Linked DNA regions of Homo sapiens: region 2 is linked to region 1. A link means that fine-mapping ties the variant in region 1 to the expression of a gene that starts in the linked region. Tissue or cell type: whole blood. Region 1 holds a variant in brackets; the other region holds the start of a gene. All regions are shown on one strand. Distances are between the middles of the regions.

Region 1 (8,175 bases):
GTTGGGGCAGGGGGCCTGGGCATGGCCTATGTTGATTGTAATGAGGAGCTGGAGTTGAGGCCTTCTGAATAGATTGGGTGTTTAGGGAGGGCCTTTGGGAGGAGGGATGTCAGCCTTCTGAGCCAAGGCTTGTGGGAAAATACGGGAAAAGAGTAATTCTGGCAGAGAAACCCTTTTGCAAAGGCCCTCAGGTAGGTATAAGGACCTGGGGCCTGATATACCAGGACAACAGGAAAGAGGCTACATGAGCCTGTGGGGGGAAGAGGACAGAGGAATGGCAACCCTGGCGGGGCCCCGCCGGCCACACGGGGAGCCTGGATTTAAAGTGAGTATGTCTTCAGCCACATTGCCTTTGGAGAGTCACAGACAGGAGTGACGAGATCTGGGTCGTGTTTTTCAGAGTCCTCCCTGCTGCTGTGTGGACGACACGTGGGCACAGGCAGAAGTGGGCCCTGTGACCAGCTGCACTGGTTTCGTGGAAGGTAAGTCCTGGGCTGAGAGGAGTGGTGGGTTGGAGGGGACACACTTGGGCTGTGAGGCGAGGAAGGTGGAGACCGAGCATGGCCCTCAGGTGTTCAGTCTGAGCCACCAGGTGGGTGGAGGGACCACTTCTTCCCCTTCTCTGGCTCCTACAGCATTTAGAGTCCTGGAGTGCTGGTCCCTGGGGAGGCTCGGCAGCAGGTCCTGGCATTCAGAGCTGGCCCAGGGTTGAGCACCTGACACACCCCCAACCTGCCCTGCGGGCAAGGACAGAAGAGGCCTGAGAACCGTCTCTTCGGACTCAGGGGCAGTGGAACTCAGACTGCCTTCAGGTGGCCGAGAACTTGAAAGCCCTGGTGTTCTTTGTGGCAGTCCCTCCATCTGTCTGTCCATCCATCCATCCACCTACCTACCCCTCCATCCCTGCATCCACCCAGTCTTTCATGCAGCAATATTTGTTGGGAGTCTGCCTTGTTCTCGTAAATAACAGTCTTCCCGTCAAGGTATCACAGTCCTCAGGGGAAAGGGACAGGTAAGTAGAAAGTGACTGCACAGCATGCGTTATAGGAACTGCCGTCTATCCACAGCAGACCATGTGGCAGGCATTTTGCCCTAATTTAATGTCTGGACAAATCTGCAAAGTAGGATTTTGGGGTTTTTTTTTTGTTTTTTGTTTTTTGTTTTTTTTAGGTGGAGTCTCACTCTGTCACCCAGGCTGGAGTGCAGAGGTGCGATCTTGGCTCACTGCCACCTCCACCTCCTGGGTTCAAGCAATTCCTCTTCCTCAGCCTCCCAAGTAGCCGGGACTGCAGGCACCCGCCACCATGCCCAGCTAAGTTTTGTATTTTTAATAGAGATGGGGTTTCACCATGTTGGCCAGGCTGGTCTCGAACTCCTGACCTCGTGATCCGCCCGCCTCGACCTCCCAAAGTGCTGGGGTTACAGGCTTGAGCCACCGTACCCAGCCTGCAAAATAAGTTTTATCTTTGTCATTTCACCAATGAGTAAAGTGAGGCTCAGAGAGGTTAAGTCACTTGTCCAAGGTCACACAGCTAGGAGGCATTAGAACTGCATTCAAATCCAAGGCAGCCTGATGCCAGAGCCTGTTCAGGGAGCTGCTCTAGTCTCCAGTGCCACTGGAAGGAAGGAGAGAGGGAGTGCCCCTAACCAACATGTGTCTTGGGGGTCAGAGGGTGGCAGTGGTAGTGATGAAAAAGCTGGCTGGAGTAGGAAGTTTCCTGGAGGTGGTGATTTTGGAGGTGAGTGTTAAATGATAAGTAGAAGTTGGCAAAATATTAATATAATAATTTTATTATACAAACTGATTTGGCATAAAATGATATATTTCGTCAATTAAAATTGTAGTTGCTCAGAAATGGTCAATTTACCTGGTGTCAAGTATAACATAAGATCAGCACCTCACCAGGAACGGTGGCTCACGCCTATAATCCCAGCACTTTGGGAGGCCTAGGCAGGTGTATCACCTGAGGTTAAGAGTTCAAGACCAGCCTGGCCAACACGGCAAAACCCTGTCTCTATTAATACACAAAAGTTAGCCGGGCATGATGGCACATGCCTGTAATCCCAGCTACTCTGGAGGCTGAAGCAGGAGAATCACTTGACCCTAGGAGACGGAGGTTGCCATGAGCCAAGATTGTGCCACTGCACTCCAGCCTGGGTGACAGAGCAAGAGCAAGAGTGCCTCAAAACAACCACCACCACCATAACAAAGATCAGTACCTCCATCCTGCTGCTCACAGCTCTCTGTGACTGTTCTGGAAGTTTCCCATTAAGATGTGCTTGCATCTCATTCCCTTGAATTGTCAGTGTTTTTAACACAGGAAAGCTTGGGCAGACTCTCCAATGTTTACCAAAAGTATACACAAGAAAGCATAACATTGGAGGACATTCTTTTGGCTTAAGATCATCTGTAAATTAAATCCTCATCCCTTGCTGCTTCTGCAAGCACTGAGCCAACTGATGATGATGATACAGACACCAGCCCCAGCTCCGGGTCATTGAGTCCTGACTGTACCAGGCGCTGACCTCACTCCCTCTTTAGGACGGGAGTCCAGTTGGGAGTTCCACTCCCCAAGGAGATGAATGAGGCCCAGGAAGTCCCTCCTCTGTGGCCACACATTGGCAAAGCCAGGATTTGAACCCTTGTTCAGGGATCCTGTGTCTTCTCTCTCTAAGTCACAATCAATTCCTGCCACCCAGCTGGCTGTTTTCTTTCTCCAAAGTTCCCGTGCTAAGGGTAGTCGTGACCCTTGCTGCCTCTTCGTTTTGTTTTTTTTGAGACGGGGTCTCGCTCTGTCGCCCAGGCTGGAGTGCAGTGGCGCGATCTCGGCTCACTGCAAGTTCCACCTCCTGGGTTTACACCATTCTCCTGCCTCAGCCTCCCAAGTAGCTGGGACTACAGGCGCCCGCCACCACGCCTGGCTAATTTTTTGTATTTTTAGTAGAGACAGGGTTTCACCGTATTAGTCAGGATGGTCTCGATCTCCTCACCTCGTGATCTGCCTGCCTCAGCCTCCCAAAGTGCTGGGATTACAGGTGTGAGCCACCGCGCCTGGCGACCCTTGCTGCCTCTTACAGACACTTGTGGGTGCGCCATTTGATCCTCTACACCAGGGGCCAGCAGGCTTTTTCTGTAAAGGGCCAGATAGACCAGTAGGCATGGCTGTGTGCAGAAATTTAGATTCCATGTAATTTTCATGCATTAAAGAATCTTTTTATTTTTCTTTTAACTATTTAAAAATATGAAATCTGGGCCGGGCACAGTGGCTCACGTCTGTAATCCCAGCACTTTAGGAGGCCGAGGCAGGTGGATCACGAGGTCAGGAGATCGAGACCATCCTGGCTAACACAGTGAAACCCGTCTCTACTAAAAATACAAAAACAAAATTATTCAGGCATGGTGGCGGGCGCCTGTAGTCCCAGCTACTTGGGAGGCTGAGGCAGGAGAATGGCGTGAACCCAGGAGGCGGAGCTTGCAGTGAGCCAAGATTGTGCCTCTGCCCTCCAGCCTGGGCAACAGAGGGAGATTCTGTCTCAAAAAAAAAAAAAAAAAAAAGATGAAATCTGTTCTTAGCTCAGAAGCTGTATAAAAAACAGGCAGGGGGCTGGATTTGGTCTGCAGGCTGCAGTTTACCAACCCTGGTTCCACACCAACCCTTATTTCTGTCTCATGGATGGCAGACTGAGGCTCAGCTCTCAGTATGGGAGGGCAGAGCCGGGCATAACCCCTGGCACTCTGAATTCAACCTCGGGGGCTCCTTGGAGCTTGGTGGTGGTTGTGGATTCCTTGAAGTTGATGCCACAGCCCATCGTGGGTGACCTGGGTGTGTCCCCGCCTCAGGCTGAGCTGACTTCCTTGCCTGTGTGGGATTGCCCATCTCCCGCTGAGTGTGGAGAATGTTCTTCACCCTCTGCTCCCTGTCAGTTTGAGGCAGAAGCATCTGCACTTGCAGGGCAGGAAGACTTTGTCTTCTGGATCTTGGCCAGTGTGCCTGGGAGCTGCCCATCCCAGGTTCCAGTTATCAGCACCTTCTCCTCCCTCGGGTGATGTCCAGATACCTCTGGGTCTGTCCCACTTGACTGGGCTGCCTGGCTCTCATTTCAGCCTCTGGACCCACCCAGCTGCCTCCTGTGTGGGATGGAGCCCATGGGTGGTGTAAGGGGCCAGGCAGCCTGGGCCCTGTCCTTGCCAGTCCTCCTACTTGAGACCTTGGGCAGGCTCCTTCTCCCCTCTGTGCCTCTGTTTGCATGTAGAGGGCTGAAGAGCTTAGCCCAGTGCCTGATACAATCTGTGTGCGTGACCAAGGGACCAGCCAAGCTTGCCCAGGGTCTGGAATATCATGGGAATACCAGCCCAGCCACGTCTGCCTTGGTGACAAGGTTTCCCAGCCTCCTCCTTGCCCTCTGAGCAGAGCTCCTCTGAGCAGTCATTTTGTCCTCACACCTAACTGGACAAAGGAAACCCAGCCGTCCCCAAAGATCCCTTTATAATCCTGGCTACTGTCCAGGAGGGACCACTTCACAGAAGAAAGATCTTGGGGTCTGAAAACCACTGCCACTTATGACCTGTGTGACTTGGGCAAGTTACTGAACCTGTCTGAGCCTCTGGTCTGCCAGGGATAGGAATACTCACTTCCTGGGCTGGTTGTGAGGATGATGGGGGATGATGTCTGAACATGGCCACTTGTAGTAGTTGCTATTCCCTGGCGGCCACTCCTTCTCCTTACAGACGTCATACTTACTCTTATTTTTGTTTTTATTTTTTTTGAGACAAAGTCTCTGTTGCCCAGGCTGGAGTGCAGTGGCGCAATCTCAGCTCACTGCAACCTCCACCTCCTGGGTTCAAGCGATTCTTGTGCCTCAGCCTCCTGAGTAGCTGGGATTACAGGCACCCACCCCCACGCCTGGCTAATTTTGTATTTTTAGTAGAGATGGGGTTTCACCATGTTGGCCAGGCTGGTCTCGAACTCCTGACCTCAGGTCTTCTGCCAGTCTCGGCCTCCCAAAGTGCTGGGATTACAGGCATGAGATACCGTGCCCGGCCTATACTTATTCTTTTCTAAAAGCTGCCCTTTGCTGAATGCCCCACCGTGAG[G/A]CTGAGCAGAGGATGTGTGAGCTGGAAAGTGTAGAAACCCCTTTCCCGGACTTTCTGAAACTGCAACACCGTGGATCTGACTCAGGGTTGCCAAAGAACTCTTTCCACACTTCTGCAATTTCACAAGGATGCCAATGGCCCCATTGCCAAGACGCATAGTTTGTTGGCGGACTGCAGTTAGTGGATGTTCTTCTGGTGAAGGGGTGGCCTAGCTACTGCTGCTTGGGCGCTGAACCTGGTTGGTCTCTTGGGGCATGCCCCGTATTGTTTACTGGGAGGAGACCTGGTCAGGCTGAAACACAGCAGATCCGTGGTAGGAAAGAAGAACAGATGCCGCCTGGCTTTGGGAGAGAATCTCTCTTCTCTTGCTGTTTAGTTCCTGGAGTCTGTGAAGTGCCTGTGGTATGTCAGGCTCTGTGCTGGGAGGTGAGAGAGAGGAAAAACAATAGCTATCCTTGATGTAGTGCAGACTCCCAGGAGGCCTTCCTAGGCCAGGACGGGGTTTGGGCATTGAAGATCTCTGGCTTCCTGGGCACGGGGAAGTCATGTTTTCTCCTCTCTAGGTCTGGGGAGTTGCCCAGGTTGCACTGCCCTGGCTCCCGAGTCACTGCCATCTCTGCAATTCTCAGACCCAGGCCTTGGAGCCCCCTAGACTGGAAGAGCCATTTAGTCTAATCTCCCTACATAGCACTTAAATCCCCCAGGAGTATTTTTTTAGACTTTGCTTCCATGCCGCTTGTGATGGGAAGCTCACTACCACCCAGGCAGCTTTTTCCTAACTTGGGCAGCTTTGCTTCATATTATACCTCCCAAATCTGCCCTTTAAAAAGGCACTTAAAGAAAACTTCCTGTAACAAAGCTGTTAGAGGAAAGAAAACTGGACTGGACCCCTTGGGAGGTCATGAACCCTCCTCATTAGCCACCTTCCCCATCACCGGAGGTGTGTGAAGTGGAAGCTGAGCTCCCACTTGACAAGGAGGATGGAAGATTGTTGATCGTTAGCATGTCCAGAAAAGAGTAGGGAACCTGTGTGTAGCCGGGGAAATTGAAGACTTTCAAGTGGTGCTGGAGGAAGAAGGAGTGAAGCCCGGGCCTCCGGCTTTCCTTTCCCTTTGCTCTGTGGCCTGCCCTTCCCCCTCCATAAGGCAGGGAAACACAAGTGGGCCTGGTGCCGTCCCCTCCACCCCCCCAGCCCAGCTCTGCCCATGCAGCTGTCCCAGGCCAGCTGTCCAGGCCCCAGCTGCCCGGCGGTGCTGGCTCCCTTTGCCCCAAAGGGTCTGAAGGCTGGCGGCTGGCACTCCTGGATTTTCTGGCCTCTGAGTCAGGGTGAGAACAGTCAGCTTCCAGCTTCCCTCTTCCTCCCGGGGCCCTCCCCTCACCTGGGGTCTTTTGGAGTGGAGGGGGCACAGCATGCCCAAGCATGGTTTGTGTCATTTCAGAAGCACAACTTGTGTCATCGGGGAGACTGTGAAAACTTGGAAACAACCTGTGTGTCCAATCTTAGAGTATCAGTTAAATGCTTTTATGGGATGGCCACATCTGAGACTTTAACCTGGGGCCACTGGGGTTCCTGAATGGGTTTCAGAGGTCCATGAACTCCCAGAAATTATTAGCATCACAAAATGCTAACTACACATGAATTTTTTGGGGGACTCTGTGAGCCCCCAAATGTTAATAAGTACTAATAGGATGGAATCCTATGCAACATGTGAAACTATGAAGAGCATTTTATCAACATATAGAGAGTGAAGATTGTAGAATGAAAAAAACAGGCTAGAAAACACTATACAGAATGAGCCCAATTTTGATTAGAACCATTTGTTATACACACACACACACACACACACGAATAATAGCTACTAAAACGATGACAGTTTTTAATCTCTGGAGTGAGATACATTTTGCTTGATTTCTGTTTTTCTGTATTTGTTGGGTGTTCTACAATGCATGTTTATTCCCTTTGTAATAAGAAGCTGGGACGCTCAGCCTATTTTCTGAGAAGCCAAAATTCCCCTTCTCGCCTTGGCAGACCCCACAACTCCCAGCCCCTAGTCCCAGAGGGAGTCTGTGGAACAAGCACAGGTCTCACCTCTGGGTCTCTGTCAATGGATCACTAACTTCCCGGCCCCCTGACTTCAAACAGAGTCCATCTGTGCAAGTTCCAGAGCCTGGGTCATGGAGGTGAGGGGTGAGGGTCTCCCTCTGTCATTTTGCTCCCACCAGCCCCAGCCCCAGCCCCAGCCCCAGTGCAGTGGCTGATCCGGATCCTAACTGCCAAGCATCAAGTGCCTGGCACACAAGACTGCTCGTGGGACCTCATTTCCTAGCTGTGTGGCTTTGGGCTAGTTGTCTAACCTCTCTGGGCCTCTGCATCCTCTAAGGCAGGGACAGGGTTAGTACCCACCTCCTGGGGTTGCTGCAAGGGCAGACTGAGCTGATCCCCTCACTGGCCTGCCTGCCTTCTCTCTTCCAGGAAGCTCCAGGACTGGCGGGATGGGCTCAGCCTGTATCAAAGTCACCAAATACTTTCTCTTCCTCTTCAACTTGATCTTCTTTGTAAGTATGTCCCATGCCGTCCTGACCACCTCCGAAAAGATTCTCCTTCCAGGGGCATCCCAGCCTGAGCCTTTCCAGAGCCGACCGGGCCGGGGATTGGGGGGATTTGGTGGGTAGGGACTGAGGACGAACTATCTCCAACGGAACCTAGTTGGGGTGGTGAGGAGATTCCCTGCCATTCCCAGCTGGTCCTTTGACCAAGCACTGGATTCCTGACCCGGCCTTCCCCTCTCCTAGATCACCCAAAGCCTGGGCTGGCGGTGGGTATGGGGAAGGAGAGGAGAGCCCCTGGGCATCCCCCTAACTCAACAGCAGGAGCTGCTAGAAGAAGCCTCTTAGCATCTCTCTAGTCCTGTCCTGGCCCCCACCCTGCCCATGTGAAGAATTGACCTGTGACAGTTCCAGGCCCCAGTTGCCCCTATCACACCCCCGTCCCTGTCGTGGGAAGGTATCTCCCTGAGCTCTCATAGGGAGAGCAAGAGGGCGCCAGGCGTGGGGCCAGTGAAGGGCACATACCTCCTTCC
Region 2 (8,175 bases), 26 kb before region 1:
ACTATGTACCCTGCTCTTGAACCAGGGCCTTGGTGACTGCTTCTACTAATAGGATGCAAAGGAAGTGATCCTATATGACTTCTAAGGCTAGGTCACAAAATGCCATGCACTTCTAAGTGAGTCTTTGTTCTTCAAAACCGGCAGCCAAATTATGAAGAAGCTCAAGCAACCTGTGGAGCAGCCTCATGGAGAGGACCAAAGGCCTCCACAGCTCTGGCTGACCTCCCAGCTGGCAGCAAGTGCCAACTTGCTAGGTGTGTGAGTACACCATCTTGAAAATGGATCCCCAACCTCCAATTGAACCACCTGACATTGCGTAGAGCAGAGATAAGCCGTTGCTGCTGAGCCCACCCCAAACTGCAGATTTATGGGCAAAATAAATGAGTGGGATGGTTTGTTACATAACAGTAGGAAACAGATACCCGCACTCATTCTCTTTACCTTCCTCCACCAGAGATGTGCAAAAGTCTTGGGGCCTTAACCTAGGCCCAGACACTAACAGGGAACTGGCCCCCATGTTCTTGCCTACAAGTTCTTTGAAGTCTCCTGCTCAGCTGTTCATCTTCCACCTTTGGGGTGGGGGAATCTTCTGAGAGCCTGGCAATCCTATAGCCATACCTCTCTGAGGTCTTGCCACACCACCGTCTTCCCCATCTCCAAGTTGGCCATGGATATCTTCTCTCAAGGCTTTCTAGGGTGGTTCTTCTCACCCCTTTTCCCACCTCCAGAACTCCTGGCTCCACCTCTAGAATGGACTAGAGGTAGAGTCTCACTAGAAGTGTCTGCGCTTTCTGCCTGGCAAAATGCCCAAGGTGAGTCATGACAAAGCTTGCCTTCTGCTGGAAGAGAGGGGATAGGGACAATGCTGAGGGAGCCAACCCAATGTGATATTTCAGTGAATGACTCTGCTATGGTTTGAATGTATTGGAAACTGAATCCCCAAATTCATATGTTGATGGTATTTGGGGGTAGGGCCTTTGGGAGGATTAGATAAGGTCATCAGGATGGGGCCCTCATGATGAGGACTGGTAGCTTTATAATAGGATGAAGAGAGACCTGCGGTGGCATGCCCTTGCCCTCTCACCATGTGATGAGTCAGTAAGAAGGCTTTCACCAGATGTAGCCTCTCAACCTTGGAATTCCCAGGCTGCAGAACTATACAAAATAAAATTCTTTTATCGATTACCCAGCCTATGGTATTGTGTTATAGCAACAGAAAATGGACTAAGTTAGACTCAGATGCACATCTACTCAACAACTGTCCCTTAAGCTTCCAGGCATGTGCTAGAAGCTGGGGAGACAAGGCCAAATGGCAATGTCACCATAGACCTGGACAAGAGGGCACCTGTGGCCACCCAGAGCCCACACCTGACCTTGATCATGCTTTGGGTGTTTAAAAACCTAGACTGCCTATCCAGCCCAAGCCAGTTTTTTTGTTTTGTTTTGTTTTGTTTTGTTTTGTTTTGTTTTGTTTTTTGAGACAGGGTCTTGCTCTGTTGCCCAGCTGGAGTGCAGTGGTGCAATCTCAGCTTACCGCAACCTCCGCCTCCCTGGCTCAAGCGATCCTCCCACCTCAGCCTCCCGAGTAGCTGGGACCACAGGCACACGCCACCACACCCAGCTAATTTTTGTAGTTTTTGTAGAGACAGGGTTTCATCCTGTTGCCCAGGCTGGTCTTGAGCCCCTGAGCTCTTTAATCCTCCTGCCTCAGCCTCCCAAAGGGCTGGGATTTCAGGTGTGAGCCACTGTGCTCAGCCCCCCAGCCAGTTTTAAGGTTTACAAAGCTGCCTGCCCAGGTCCATCCTCCTGAGGGTACATCCTGTCCCTGGAATGTGCATTCATAGAGAGGTGACGAAGAGGTGGCTGTAGGCAAGGCGTGTGGGCAAAGTTTGGGTGTGTGGGCTGGAGTATCCACATGCCTGAGTCCTAGGCCACTTGTGACACAAGACAGAGATGGAGTGTGAAGAGAAGTGGAGTGGGTGGGCTGAGGGCTAGGGCCAGGCTATCCTCCCGCACTGCCATGTTCTTGCATAAAATTCTAAAGAGTCCAAGAATGCTAAATTTGAACATGGTCTTCCTGGTCATTAGAAAGAACATTTGTCAAGGCAGGAGAATACACATTTTATTTCACAGTCAGTTAAATGTTTAGATACAAGGTATCTGGTCCTTGATTTGCACTCTTAACTTGGGCTCTCCATGTTCGGGCAGGTCAGCATAACAGGACCAGTGCCCAGGCCCTGCACTCCTACAGGGAGACACTCTTCTGTGGGACTCAGACAATGACAGGGAGTATGGCAGAGATTCTAGAAGCTGCCTGAAGACTGCTCTCAATGTCACCACAGCTGCCTCTATCTCTAATCAGGAGTGGCAGGGCAGCAAGGGATAGCAGATGGGACTAATATGAGAGAATGTCTTCATGGGGGGAGGGGACAGTGAGGGGATCCAGCTGTTTTGCCAATGGCCAGTTCCCATCTGTCTGCTGGAGCCCTATTAACTTCAGTAGGGATGGTACTAGGTTCAAGAGGCTGAAGGAGAGACCAGAGCCAGCAACTGGGACATGGGGTTTTATTGGGAAACTTACACACAGGGACGGCCGGTGGCAGTGGGCTGGACAGGAGAACTGTACAGTCCCATGGCAGGCTGGGCAGGAGAGCCACAACCGCTTACAAAAAGCATGCAGTTTATACATCACTCTCACTTAGCACCCTCCCCCTAACAACCCCCACCTGATAACCTTCATTTGGCCCCAAACAAAGAGCTTTGAACCCCTGTACACCCTGCATTCCACAGGATGGGCCGGGGTTCAAATGTTCCTCACAGATAAGGAATGAATCTCCAGGTTGGTCATTCCCGGATTCCTTAGCTCAAAACTCCAAACACACATTGGGGTGCATCTGCCATACAGGACCATTCTCAGGGTATGCTTAAGTCAAGTTATTGCTGTCAGGAGCATCTGCCATACACCATCACAAACACCCCCAGCTCGGAGGGAGCGGGGTGTGGAGTAGGGTGGAATAGGAGGAATTTTATGCCCATTTTGCATGGGCTGGGTAGGGTAGGGATCTGAAACCCAGCCCAAGACAGAATGGCACAGTGGTTCTCAAAGTGTGGTCCCCGGACCAGCATCCACATCATCTAGGAGCTTGTTAGGATCTTAACCACTTGCAGGATAGAGGGTGTCTCTCTGCGGGTATGACACACTGCTGGGTTTAAAGGATTCTCCAGCCTCACTTTTCTGACTTGGTGTGGGAATGCTATGAAGGAGACTTTTTGCTGAAAAGAGAACATTTTCTGAGCATGTACGGCATTCAAGCGGTGGGCCAAATACTTTATGAATGCTGTCACATGTAATCTTCAACAGCTACCATCAAGATCGGTATGATTGTTATGGCTCATTTTATTATTATTCCCTGTTTAAGGGCTCATCCCAGAGGTTAAGTATCTTGCCTTGTCCTGGGTTTAAAACGCAACCAGGAAGCTACCTAGGTCTGTGTGATTCTCAGACCACCCTGACTTCTTTACAGTTTGCTCAACAGTGGTTCATGCTTGAATGTGATTCAGAATCACCTGGAGGCCTTATTAAAACCAATTGTCCCACAGTTTTCCATTCAGTAAGTTGGGATGGGGCTTCAAAATACGCACTCCTAACAAGTTCCCAGATGATGTTGCTCCTGGTTCAAGGACCACGCTGTGAGAACTACAGTGCTGGGCTGGGATCCAGCTCCCGCCCTTACTCCACTCGTACAAAGCGCTCATAATCATACCCTCCCACAACGGTGTGTTGTGAGAGGACATTGTGATAATGGAAGTGAAAGAGCTTTGTCAGCTGCACAGGTGAATGCCCCTGGTCATTAACCAGGTAATCTGCCTGAGGCTAGTCCTCTGGAGCCTGGGAGGGCAGAGGGCTGGGACGCAGGGTGGGCACCGCAGCCACCTAGAGAGCTCTTGCAGCCCACCTCAATTTTGGGCCACTTTTTCTTCAGGGAGAAAGCCAGCTTTGAGGGCTTAGGCCCACAGCCCCTCCTGCCACTATTCTCATCAACCCACACCTCCTCCCTCACCTCAGGCAGCTGCTGGGCACTGCCCCAGCACTGGTTGTTCTGGGCTACTTCCCCAGGGGCCAGTCCAGGCAAGCTGGGGCAGCTCAAGCCTGTGACTCAGGACCTGAGGCTGGATCCCGCTCACGCCCGCCTCCATGAGATTCAGAGCCCTCGACTTCCCTTCTCTGAGCCTTAAACTGCGCATTAGTAAAATAGGCGCAACGAGAGTACCCATGAGTTGTGGGAATTCAAGGGCTAGAACTGTATTCAGCGCTTGGCATAGAGCCTGGCCCCTGGCAAGGATTCAATCAATGGTAGTCAGTATTTTCAAAAAGTTCCTGGGCCCAGGCCGCCTCCTGATAGAGGCCCCGACTTAGGACACAAACCGCTCCCACGCCGTTCCCCGGCGGCACCCGGATACACCCGCCCTGGAATGCCAGCGTGGGGGCCCCAGGGCTACCCGCCCGAGATGAGAGGGGCAGGGCAGGGCAGGATTAGGAAGGCGCTGAGCCCAGGCTGGTGCGGGGAGGGGCGTGGCCTCACCCTACTAGGGCCGGGGGATGGGGTGGGCTCGAAGGAGAAAGTGAAGGAGGCGGGGGCGCTGGGAGGGCCCGGGAGGAGACCGGGAGGACGAGGTAGGCGGGAGCTGGGCGGGACCGTTAGGCAGCGCCGTGAGTGGACAGGGCTGGAGCGGGGCGGGCTTAATCCCCAGTGTAACCTGGGGGCGGGGCTGCCGGGATAGAGGAGAGACTCCGTAGCGGGGCGGGGCCTCAGCTCCAGCTGGGCCCGGGGGCGAGGCTGGTTGGGGTACGGCCATAGTGGGCGGGGCCTGGCCGGCGGGAGCGCACCGCCTTCCCAAAGGGCTCGGGGGCGGGGCCGGCGGAGGGGGCGTGTCTTCTGGGGGCGGGGCCTGCCGAGTCCGCGGCGTTCCCCGGCTGCAGCCGGGAGGGGGCCGAGGAGTGACTGAGCCCCGGGCTGTGCAGTCCGACGCCGACTGAGGCACGAGCGGGTGACGCTGGGCCTGCAGCGCGGAGCAGAAAGCAGAACCCGCAGGTGAGCAAGGGGGCAGCGGGCCGGGGTAGCCTGCCGGACAACCATAGGCAAAGTTAGTTTTAGCCCCCGCTTCTGCGGTCCGGCTCGGACAACTTTCCTCGGAACTAGTGACAGGTCGGGGCAGCTGGTGGGTGAAAAGGAGCTTTAGCCACCAGTCCTGAACCCCCAGTTCTCACACTCGGCCGTGCACAGCTGCGTGATCCTGGGTCCGTCCCTCTACCTGGCTCTGGACCTCCCGGGTTCCAGCAGGAGGAAGTGAACCAGGTGAATTCCACGCTCCCGTTGCCCTTTCTCACTTAAAACGCCGGAAGGTGAGAGCTGGCAGGTGAGAGCAGGCTGCAGGTCGCCACAGGTGTTCCCATCGCGTTGCCCTCTGCAGTTTCTCTCCCTGCAAAATGGGACTGAGAGAAGCGAATTGCTTTAAAGAGTGCACTGTTTCCTCGGTTGGGGCTCGAACCCACCAACCCTGGGGAAGAGGAGGCCAAAGCAGGGAGGTTCCATTTCCCGCCTCACCTGCTTCCCACCAATTCTAACAGTTCAACTGAGCCGGACCCCCTAAGACTTCAAGTTGGAAACTCAGTGGGGCTTTTCCAGGTGAGCTGGCCTGAGCAGGAGGTTGGAAACTGGGGAACAGTTCTTACACTGGTGAGTGGGGAAGAGAAGGGAAAACCCCACCAATCCTTGGGCCCAGGGTCAAGCCCAGGGCCCCAGGGGCCCTTGAAGCATACCCGGGGTTAATTTCTTGGCTGACGGGTTCTGTTCCTGGAGGTGGTGGGTGCTCTGTGCTGGGCCCCAGTAGCGGGGCAGCATAGTTCTGTGGTCAAGGCTTGGGCTTTGGGATCAAACTGATTTGGATTCCATTCCCCCTCCAAACTTCAGTTTCCTCACCTGTAAAATGGGGATAATGACAATATCCAATAGCAGGAGCAAGCACTAAATAGAATAATGTGTATACACTACTTAGCAAGGTGCCAGGAAACCAGTGAGACCTCCCTCTGTGACAGCTGCTTTGATGCGGGTGGGCAGGTGATGGGCTTGCTTCCTATGGGGAATGAGCCTTTTTTTTTTCTTGGAGAGATGGGGTTGGCTACAGCCCCTCCTGACCTTGTGAAAGCCAGAAATTGCCACCTGCCACCAACATCACTCTATTTGAGGGATGAGGACTGTGTCATCTGGAACAAAGAGTGGCTGAGTTTTCTGTAATGTTGCTTGAGGTTGGTAAGTGTTGAGTTAAATAAGTCTAAAAATGTTTACTGAGCACCTACTATATGCTAGAGAGAGCTAGAGGATACAGAGGTGAACTAGCCAGGCCTGAGTTGCTGACAATGAGGGCTCCCCCATCCCTACCATGTCCCTGTAGAGAGGATCAGTCACACCCAGGGCTTATAACCAGATGAGATTTCATGGGTCTGTTCTGCCCTGGTGGCTGGAATCCAGCTATACCATTGCACACTTGGCTTGGGATGGGGGCGAGGGGCAATGTGGGCACCCGATATCTAAGCAGGGTTGGACACTGAAGGACGCTGAAGGTGCTGCATTATATTGGCTCCCTGCATCTTCTGGGAGATAAGCTGTACAGTATGGAACAAACTGGAAAGTGCTGTGGGACAGAGACGGACTGGCGGCTGCGCTGTGTGCAGGAGACTGTGTGTGTATGTAGGGCAGGGGGAGGTGTTCAGAAGAGTGAGACACTTGAGAAGCCAGGGCAGGGGGTGGGGGTAAGGAGGCTTCCTGGAGGGGGTGAGACTTGAATAGGACTTTCTCTCTGGGCTCCTGGTCCTGGTTTGGCTTGGATCAACATGGGACCACAGTCTCTTCAAGCACTGAAGTGGCATAAATTGGAGTTTGGTATGGTGGGGAGGGAGAGGGTCTGGTAGGTGGTGCCTGAGGTGGGGAGGAGGAGACGTTCATTTCAACAGAGCCTACCTAGTGAGCCTTAATGGAAAGCCCTCCCCACCACCACCCCCACTTCCTGCTCGATGAATGACAAGCGACCACATAAGGCCTGCACCCTCAGGTTGCTTACCATCCGGGAAGGGGCTTACACAAGAATACCAGGGACTCTGATGGAAGATAAATGAAAAAAGGATTAGAGGGATCTTCAGGGCCTTACAGACTGGGAAGATTTCGGCAGCCAGAATGAAGATAGTGTCTTGAGGAGAGGAAAATGCCTAGGCAGAGGCAGGGAGGTCAACCTGTCCTGAGAATTCTCGAGAAACCTCTAGGTTGCTCATTCTGGCTGAAGTTTGGGAACGTGTGGGGATATGCAGTGGGAATAGTAGGTGGGATCAGCTTACGGAGGGCCTTGAATGACAGGATAAGAACTTTGGATCTGATTTGCAGAAAGTGGGAGCCACTGAAGGTTTCTGAGGAGAGGAGTGACACAACAGAGCAGCACTTTAGGAAAGTCAGTCTGTACCAGATGTGCTGGGGTGGAGGATCCAGCGGTCAAGGGATAATGAACCAATGGCTGCAGTGACTGGGAAGAAGGGGTCTGGGTGGCTTTGGGGATGTCTGCAACTGGGAGTGAAGGAAGAGACACCAGCCACAGGGAGAGCAAAGGCACCATTGGAGGGGTGGGAGGGGACTGTTCCAGCACATTTGCACTTCTTTCTCCTCCCTATCCTGTCTGGTACATAGCAGGGTCTCAGGAAGGTGGCTGGATTGGGTGAGTGGCGGGGTTGCTGGGAGGGTGATGAATGCTACAGAGGGGTTTGCCCATGAAGGGGAGGCATCTGGGCCGAAAGGTGGGAGCCTGTGCCAGCCAGCAGTAAGTTTGGGGGTCGGGGGCGGGATGGTTAGAAGAAGTGCCTGCTGATCCCTCCCTCCCATCCCAGCCCAGGGAGGATAGGGGTGAGAGGTCAGCCATGTGCTATCTCTGGCAGTGGGTGAGCAGTCAGGGCACAAGTTTCCCACAGTAGGGGGACTGGGGCAGGATTTTGGCTTCCCTGGGCTCCTCTGAAGTTTCCGCTATGTGGGGGCGGCCCCCTCTGTCTTGAGGCCTCACGCTTTAGAGCCACAGCCTGGAAGCTCCCACCGGCCATCCCCTTCCACCCTGGGGACCCAAACCTGTTCCCCTAAG

The links. PIP is the estimated chance that this variant, and not a neighbour inherited with it, causes the effect.
Region 2: CD82 starts here. The variant in region 1 is fine-mapped to the expression of CD82 in whole blood (TOPMed, PIP above 0.99). The same link has a PIP of 0.9 or more in monocytes after R848.

What each region holds. Positions count from the first base shown.
Region 1 is chr11:44,587,075-44,595,249 of GRCh38, forward strand. CD82 (CD82 molecule) reads left to right here. Exons shown (of 10, transcript NM_002231.4): 2 at 401-482; 3 at 7,569-7,651. The coding sequence starts at 7,589. Among named protein-coding and RNA genes, the nearest start is that of CD82-AS1, 14 kb to the right of the region's middle. The variant G/A (reference allele first, on the strand shown) is at 5,096.
Region 2 is chr11:44,560,644-44,568,818 of GRCh38, forward strand. It overlaps CD82 (CD82 molecule), which reads left to right and starts at 5,020. Exons shown (of 10, transcript NM_002231.4): 1 at 5,020-5,093. RefSeq lists enhancers at 1,192-1,693, 1,694-2,193, 5,033-5,533, 6,039-6,108 and a silencer at 4,519-5,118.